2 separate regions of the Homo sapiens genome follow, and region 2 is linked to region 1. Evidence: fine-mapped expression QTL. A gene starts in region 1. The other region holds a variant in brackets. All regions are shown on one strand. Distances are from middle to middle. Region 1 holds the start of GNAQ (G protein subunit alpha q). Region 2 has its middle 40 kb from the start of GNAQ.

What was found. PIP is the estimated chance that this variant, and not a neighbour inherited with it, causes the effect. A credible set is the group of variants that fine-mapping cannot tell apart.
Region 2: its variant is the best candidate, but not a certain one, in a credible set for the expression of GNAQ in blood mononuclear cells (TOPMed, PIP 0.60).

Annotation. Positions count from the first base shown.
Region 1 is chr9:78,030,195-78,034,194 of GRCh38, reverse strand. GNAQ (G protein subunit alpha q) reads left to right here and starts at 2,384. Exons shown (of 7, transcript NM_002072.5): 1 at 2,384-3,095. The coding sequence starts at 2,960. RefSeq lists an enhancer at 2,301-3,195.
Region 2 is chr9:78,069,409-78,073,934 of GRCh38, reverse strand. No RefSeq gene overlaps it. Among named protein-coding and RNA genes, the nearest start is that of GNAQ, 40 kb to the right of the region's middle. The variant T/G (reference allele first, on the strand shown) is at 2,218.

The DNA.
Region 1 (4,000 bases):
TATTTGTTTGACTTAGTCTCTAGGAATATTTGCTTGGCAAACGCTCTCCAGATAATATGAAAAGGTTTTTGGATAGATCTGGGCTCAGACTTGGAATTTCTTTTCCTGTTTCCTTCTTGACACCCATATATGGCTTTATCACTGTAGAGTGTTGGTTTTTCTTACTTCCTGGTTTCTCCCCAATACTTGAAACATTCTCCTATTGATTCATTGCATCCATTTAAGTATCTAAGTTGCCAGGGAGTGTTCATGATGTTGGGGGGATACAGGGGGGACAAAACAGACTCTGACTCTATAGCCCGCTGAAACAGATGAATTCATCAAATAATAGGACAATTCAGTCAAAACATATTACCTGATAGCCTGATGGCTCATTTTAAAAGACATTTTTAAAAGTCTCAGAGGATCCCTGGGTAGGTAACCAGAGACTTCAAGCTTTCTGTCATTTGGTTTTCCAGTGTTCTGTGTCTCTCCAAAGCTCATATACATACATATATTCGGAGGATGCAAACTTAAAATTTTTTCTTCTGAAGCCACTTTCTATTTTTGCATACTGAATTTCAATCTTTAATTTCTTTAGTCACTTGATTTTAAATTTTAATTTCATAGCAAGTCTAGCTGTTCTCTGTAGGCATTCACATAAAAGGGTTGAGGTTTGCCCTCTCTGCTCTCCAGGGCAAGGTGAAATTTAATTATTTTCTAGGTTTTAAACAGAGAACCTAAAATATATATTTTATATCTTGACTTGCTTGATTTAAATCGTGGTTTAGAGTGTGTGTATGTGTGTGAAACGGTGGAGTAATGGCAAATGAAAGAAAGAAGGAAGTTACACACCTGTTGTCTAAGAACCCTATATGAGTTCTTGATCTGTAGCAAAAGCAGAGTCATGACCGTACCTTACACTCTGGATCAGCAGGTTGCACCAGGGACACTTCAGAGAACACATGAAACGTGAAAAAGCGGTTCTCTTCATAAAAGACAATTTTCTTTGAAGACCTCAGGTTCCTTTAAGGCAGGAAGCAATATGAGTTTCATCTCCTGGGCCTGATTAAACAAGATTATTTTCGTGTGCTATTTATCAGTAGACGATCACAATGAAATGTGCATACGACAGTTTACTGCCTCAATCACATATTGCAAATCAAAAAAACTAGAATGCCGTTTTGCTGGGGCCTCCTTAGTTTCTCTTCTATTTCATTCTTTCCTTTCCTTTTATTCCACATTATTTTACATTTTCCCATAAGTCATCCATAATTCAATCTCAGTCTAGAAGAGTAAATTCGATTACTCGGCGGCTAAACATCGTGTGCCTTCTCAGAAACAAGAGAACTTGTAAAACAAAAACAAAAACAACTTAAAAAAACAAAAACAACCAACAACCACCAAAAAAACAAAGGCATGAAAAGTTGGAACCTATCGGGAGGCTCTTGGAAACTTGGGCAGCTTCCTTTCTCTGTTCAGGATTTAGATTTCTATCTCACGTTACTTTGCGAACAGCTTCGCCTGTGAATCTCCCCCTACACCTCTGGGCACCGGTGCCAATTCCTTCCCTTCCCTTCCCCAGTAGCCCCACACAGTATAGAGGAGCTTATTTTCTAAGACTGCACCGGTGTCAGAGGTGACGTGAGAGTTTCTAACCGAATGGCGTTTTAGAAATAGGAACGGGAAACACAGAAACGGCTGAGGAGCGACCCCGTGGAGCAGACAGGCACAGCCCGGGAGCGGCGGACGCCAGCGCCGGCGCCGCAGGGAGCGCGTGCGGGGCTCCGCGGGGCCGCCTCCCGCGACTTCAGCAGGGGCCGCGGCCGCGCTCCCGGGCCGGTGGGCTGAGGCAGGCAGAGGCCGCCATATTCCTGTCTCACCACGCCCGGCCGGACGGCAGCCGCAGGTCGGCTGCGGCCCTGGCACGCAACGGCGGCCGCCGGCTCGGGCTGCGCGTCGGCGGCCGGGTCTGGCCCCGACTTCGGCCGGGGGCGGCCGTGACTGCTGCGCCCGCGGACTCTGCCGAGGGTGCGGGAGCAGTAGGCGTCCGCAGAGCCCGCGGGGGCCGGCCCAGCCCGGGAGCCGCGCGGGCGAGGCGAGAGCCGCACTGGGAGGCGCGCCGCGGCGGCCGCGAGCCCAGGAAAGCCTTCCAGGAGGGGCCGGGCGGCACCGCCTCCCGGCTCCCTCCTCCCGCGCCCATCCCCTCCGCCTCTTCCTCCTCCTCCTTTCGCCGCCGCCTCCTCCCTCCCGGATCTGTGCTCCAGTTCAGAGAAAGAAGAAAATGTGTGTGTGTGGCGAGGGGGAGGGCTCGCACTGAGCAGCCGCTCCGCGCCTGGCAATCGGGGCAGGGGGTGGGCGTCTGGCGGGGGCGGGGGCGGAGGCGGAGGCGGAGGAGCGCGCGGTTGCCGGGCGGGACGGGAACCGGGTCTGCGCGCGAGCCGGGCGGTGGGCGCGGACAGGGCCGAGGGCGCCCGGGAGCCGTGTCAGGCGGCGGCGAGGAGCGGGCGCGCCGGGCGCGGGGAGCCGTCGGCGGCCGCTCGCTGCGGGGACACCCCGGTGAATGAGCTCTCGCCGCCAGGCGCACGGCGTAGGGGAGCCTCGCAGGCGGCGGCGGCGGCGGCGGCTCGGGGGGCGAGGCGGGCCGCCTGTTCCCGGGGAAGGAGGCGCGGGCGTCTGAGCGAGGCCGGGCGCGGCGGCCTTCTCTCACGCGCCCCCCGAGCCAGCGCCCGCCTCCCGCGCCCGCCTCTCTTCTCCCGTCGGCCCAGACTATCCGCTCCCACCGCGCCCCCGGCCCACCTGGTGGCCCCGGCCCTGGCCGCCGCCCCCGCGGCGGTTCCCGGAGCTCGTCCCGGACGCGCGCCCGGGCGGCGGGGGCTCGGCGGCCACCGCTGCCTCGGGGGAGCGAGGGCGGGAGGGTGTGTGTGCGCGCTGTGAGCAGGGGGTGCCGGCGGGGCTGCAGCGGAGGCACTTTGGAAGAATGACTCTGGAGTCCATCATGGCGTGCTGCCTGAGCGAGGAGGCCAAGGAAGCCCGGCGGATCAACGACGAGATCGAGCGGCAGCTCCGCAGGGACAAGCGGGACGCCCGCCGGGAGCTCAAGCTGCTGCTGCTCGGTGAGTACCGTCCGGGGCCCCGCCGGGCCTCTGCGCCCCCAGCCCACCATCCTTGGCCCTGCGGGGCAGCTGCCTTCGGCGCCCCCGCCCCCCGGCGCCCGCGGTTCGCCCCTACCCTCCCGGGCGCGCCCCCGGCCACTGCCTTCACCCGCGCGGGCGCGCGGGCGCGTTACACACAGACACACACACACACACACACACACACACACACAGCGACACACACACGCAGCACAGGGGTCGGGGCTGCCCTGCCCGGTGCCTTGGCTTGTTCCTTTTCGTGTCCCTGAGGGCTGTACCTTATCTGCTGTGCATCTGCTAAATGGCAGATCACTCCGACCAGAGGCGCGGGGGTGGAAAGGTGGGCAGAGGGGTTGAACTTCCAGTGTCGTGGCCGCGGCACCCCATGGGGTGGTGGCGTGGGGAGCCGTGTGTGTGGCCCAGCGGGTGGCGAGCGGAGCCGGGGCACGTTGGGGGATGGCCTGCGGTGGAGTGGCCGGTGTGCATCCATTATCAGTGCCCTATGGGGTCAGGAGGGAATGGGGGAACGGTGGGCAGACTCGCAGCTGGATTCCCGGAGCACTCATGGTGAGGAAGCCAAGTGGTTGGCCCTCCAAGGAAAGGGTCTGTGTACTGGGGGCGAGGCGGGAGGGCAAGCCCAAATGTGTCACACAAGTGCTGTTCTCTAGCCACCAGACCATCGAAAGGAGGGAGCCTAGAAGAGTTGGCCAGTGGATGGTGACAGGCGTTATTCTCGTCTGCACCATTCCTTCTAGATAAAGATGAGGGTAGGGGAGCGTTGTGCTGTGTGGTTGTTGACAGCGACCGGTATCTTTTGTTTAATGAGGCAACCTAGATGTAGGCCTCAGTTCACAATAGTTACTACCGAAAACCAGTGCAGTCTCTCA
Region 2 (4,526 bases), 39 kb before region 1:
GAGCTGTCCAGGGCACAGGCTGCTCCACGTGGTGAGAGTAAACGATGAGCGTGGGTAGGCGCAGAGGATGATGTCAGAGAGTTGACAGGAGCCAGATTTTAAAAAGGCTCACGCCTGACACCATCAATAGCTGTTCCCAAATGTGAACAACTCCTGACCCACACCCCACCAAATTCTCTTGTAAGTGTACAAACACATGGACTGGCACACCCTTGTTTCAATATGAGCCATACAAATTCATATACTATTCCTGATGTCAGGGCACCTTGGACTATACCGTCTATGGTGATTGAGGCTGTAGCCATTAGCTGAGCTGTCCATGTAGCTTAACTAATGTAAAGGGATCCACATCCCAGACTATGACCCAGCAGTGCCCCTCAGGTCACATGTTTATATGTCGGGGAGGAAGGGCCGTGGAACATCTCTCCACTGGGGATGGGGTTGGCCTTTTGATCCATCTATTGTCCCTTGTAATTTCTGGCAATGACATCAAAGATCAGCAGCTCAGTCAATGGAAGGATTTTATACAGGAATTTGATGTAATCAGATTTGCATTCTAGACAGAAAATTTCAGACAGTTGAGAGAACAGCAACTTTAGTTTAATTTACGCTCAGACTTTACAACTGAATCCCCTTGTAAGATGTGACTTCTTAATCCTTACAACCAGAACAAGAAAGAAAAAATCTCTTAGCATGCATTAAAGGTACAGAGGTTTAATATTAATGAAACCAAATAAACACTTTGGAACTCCCCACCTATTTGCCATCAACACATGGGAATTGATAGTCATCTTAAAGCTAGCCTGGCATGACCACTCGGACATATGGACTTTCTTTTTCTTCCTGCTTTGATGTTAGCTCAGTAGTTCTCAAACTTTCATGTTTAGTTAGATTGCATATGCGAAACCATATATGCTGTGCTAGGTGGGAAATGTTTGAGTCATTTTGACTCTTTGAGACCTTTGCATTATATACTCTCTAGCCTCTCCACCTAAGTTTAAGATTCTCATCTCTAGTCTTGAGCAATGGTCCAGGAAAGAGATAAGAACAGCAGAACTCAAGGTAATGGCTGCAGGAATGTGAAAAACATCTATTCAGGAAACTGGAGCTTTGCTTCCTAACTCTGTCTCCTGCTCTCTGGTCTCATCAATCCCACTTCTTGCTTTTGACCTACATTCCCTGTGCCTTCACTCTGCCCCACACTTCCTAGCTGTTAGGTTAGATTATGAGCCCTGATGTGGATACACGTTCATTTTTCTCTCCCTTCTCTCTGTGGAAACCTGGTGCCTATGGCAAATTCCTGATCTCAGTGGGTTGACTCATCTCACACAGATTAAACTAAACTGGAATGGATCTCCCACAATGAGTATAATCTTTTTAAAATTTATTTTCCAATTTCCTCATCGATGAGCTGGGCATAATAATAATACAGACTTCATGGTTGTCAAAGGATTAAACTGGATAATGAAAAGTAAAATTTTCAGCATACTAACCAGATAGTAAGTTCTCAGTACATCTTAGCTACTTCTTCTGCCCTAATGTCTATGAGTTTTTACAGAATAATACACTTATTATTTTTATTTAAAATTTTTATAGATACATAATAGTCACACTGCACTTATCTTTAAGTTTATGCAGAAGAGTAATATTTTCAGACAATGAGTATAGATACACTTATGTTGACTTCTGCCTTGATATTCTGCCAAAATTTGCTCTTTGGCTCTGGTTTCAATCTTTGCCTTTGGAAAGCTAGAAAGCTGATTGCTCTTTTCACTCTCATTCCTCATATTTTTAACGTCGTCAATGACCAATGATCATATATTCAGGTACTCCACCATCACACATAACCAGCATAACAACTTCAGTTATGCCAATAAGATCTACCACTCAGATATTTTTATGACTGTCTAAATATTTTCTTTCATTCAACATGTAACTTAAAGTGAAAATTACCCTTATGTGCTTTATATATTGGAGTTTTATTAGTTGAAATAGATGCATATTTATTACAGTAAGTTAACATGCTATGAGAATTAAAGACAACTGTTAATGTCACTAAAATTATATACAAAAGCACAAAACAATTTTTAAATACTTAGATGAACAGGAATATAGATTGATGCTTAAGAATATTAAGAGAGGAAAATAGCTGGAAACATCCAAGAAGAGTATCATACTTTTTGAGCCAATATATCTTATAAAAATTTAAATAATAAA[T/G]AGCATGTTATTCAAGATTAGATTAGACCATAATTCTAATATCTGCAAAATTGTTTGATATACTTTTGTTTATAACTTTACAGAAAATAACCTTAAGTTATTACATTCTTAAATTCTTAAGAATTTGATGTAATCCGATCCATTGTCATTTGGGCCATGAATATATACAGGGAGATTCTTGTTTATGAATTCTCATCTTATAGGGGAAACTAAAAGTAGAATACTGACTTTACACTTCAACATTTCACAGATAGGAATATTTTTAAATTATATATAATAACACCCATGATGAGCCAACTTTAATTCCAGAGGTAATAAAGAATATAAAGAAGGCTGGGCATGAGTGGTTCACGCCTGTAATCCCAGCACTTTGGGAAGCCGAGGCAGGTGGATCACTTGAGGTCAGGAGTTTGAGACTAGCCTGGCCAACATGGTGAAACCCCGTCTCTACTAAAAACACAAAGCCGGATGTGGTGGCAGGCATCTATAATCCCAGCTACTCGGGAAGCTGAGGCAGGGGAATCACTTGAACCCAGGAGGTAGAGGTGGCAGTGAGCCAAGATCGTGCCATTGCACTCCAGCCTGGGCAACAAGAGTGAAACTCCATCTCAAAAAACAAAAAAGAATATTAAGAAGAGAAGAAAGCAACAGAGAAAATGCCTATTTACAGACCCCCACATAGTGAATGGCACTACTAGTATTGTGTAGTGTATAACCTGTGCAACTGTATATGGTGGTCATATATGTTCAGAGTCAAAAATGCAGACAAGTGACAGGCTGGCAGTGCTGAGAAACTTTCATTCCTACACTGTAATGTCAAACATTTTGATTACTAAGATTGTTTAAAACAAAATTTTCGTAATAATGACTTTTAAGTTAATATTCTTGGATTTATTTTTAGAGGCCAGAGGTTCATCCTGAAATATGATTGCTGTCCTCAGCAGAATATCTATTTTACCCCATGGCCATTTGGCAATTAGCCAAAATGTGTATTCAGCATACCTCTAACTACATGAAGATTTATTTTCTGTACTCTTTTTCTTGTTACCATGATGATAATCATCTTAATGCAATACACACGTGCAAAAATGTGATTCTTTATTTTTCTCCAATCAAACTGAGCCCAACTCATATGAGCTTTGATTACTTCTAATAGAAGAAAAGGTAATCTGACCAATTCAAAGCAAACACAACTCCTTCTAGGTTAAAATTTCAGCTTCTTCCAAGAAAGTGATTGGTCCAGTTGCAGGCTTCTACACTCTCTCCTCTCCTTTTCTTCCTAGGAAAGATCTGAGATCTAGTGTACCATTTGGCAATGCTCAGGACTAGCCAATTGTCAGCACTAGGACTCAGGGTTGCCCAGTCATCTCATATAATGAGAGAAGGTGGAGATCTAGAATTTTATATAAAAATGCTTGCGACTGGGCGCAGTGGCTCACACCTGTAATCCCAACACTTTGGGAGGCTGAGGCAGGTAGATCACCTGAGGTCAGGAGTTCGAGACCAGCCTGACCAGTATGGTGAAACCCTGTCTCTACTAAAAATACAAAAATTAGCTGGGTGTTGTGGTGGGTGCCTGTAGTCCCAGGTATTCGGGAGGCTGAGACAGGAGAACTGCTTGAACCTGGGAGGGAGAGGTTGCAATGAGCCAAGATCGTGCCATTGCACTGCAGCCTGGACAACAGAGCAAGCTCCGTCCCAAAACAAAACAAAACAAAAAACAAAACTTGCATTTGTAATTCTGGATCAGTTTCTGCTCCAGCTCTGTGTCGAGAGGCTGGCTTTTAGGGATGGCATCAATGGACTTCTTTGCCTCCTGGCTTCCTGTTGGGCTTCTCCTGTGGGAGTCATCAGTCATGGGTCATGCAAGGGTAGAGGACACTGAAGCAGGACGCTCTCTGCAAGGCATTGGATTGGACTGGGCTGGCCATGACTGTCTCCTCTACCAAAGGCTTCTGTCCAAAGCCCTTCCAGACATGGAGGTTGTGACTGCTCTTGGCAGTTACAAGCACCAAAGTGTTTTTGCCATACTTTGTTGTCTTCTCTTAACTCTGTTCAAACCTTTAGGAAAAGCTTGTTTGAGAGTGTCATCTGTTTCCCACCAAAACCCAGATTGATTCATAGACTACTTAATATTTTCTTTTTTTTTCAACTCTATGGGTCAAATAAGACATAAAAGACTGGGTGGGCCAAGTAAAACCATGTCTATAGATCAGATTTAGCCCATGGATTATAAAAATTTTATTTAGAACACCTCCTAAGATATATTCTTGCCTTAAAAATTAATCTGAATTCAATCAGAATGTAAA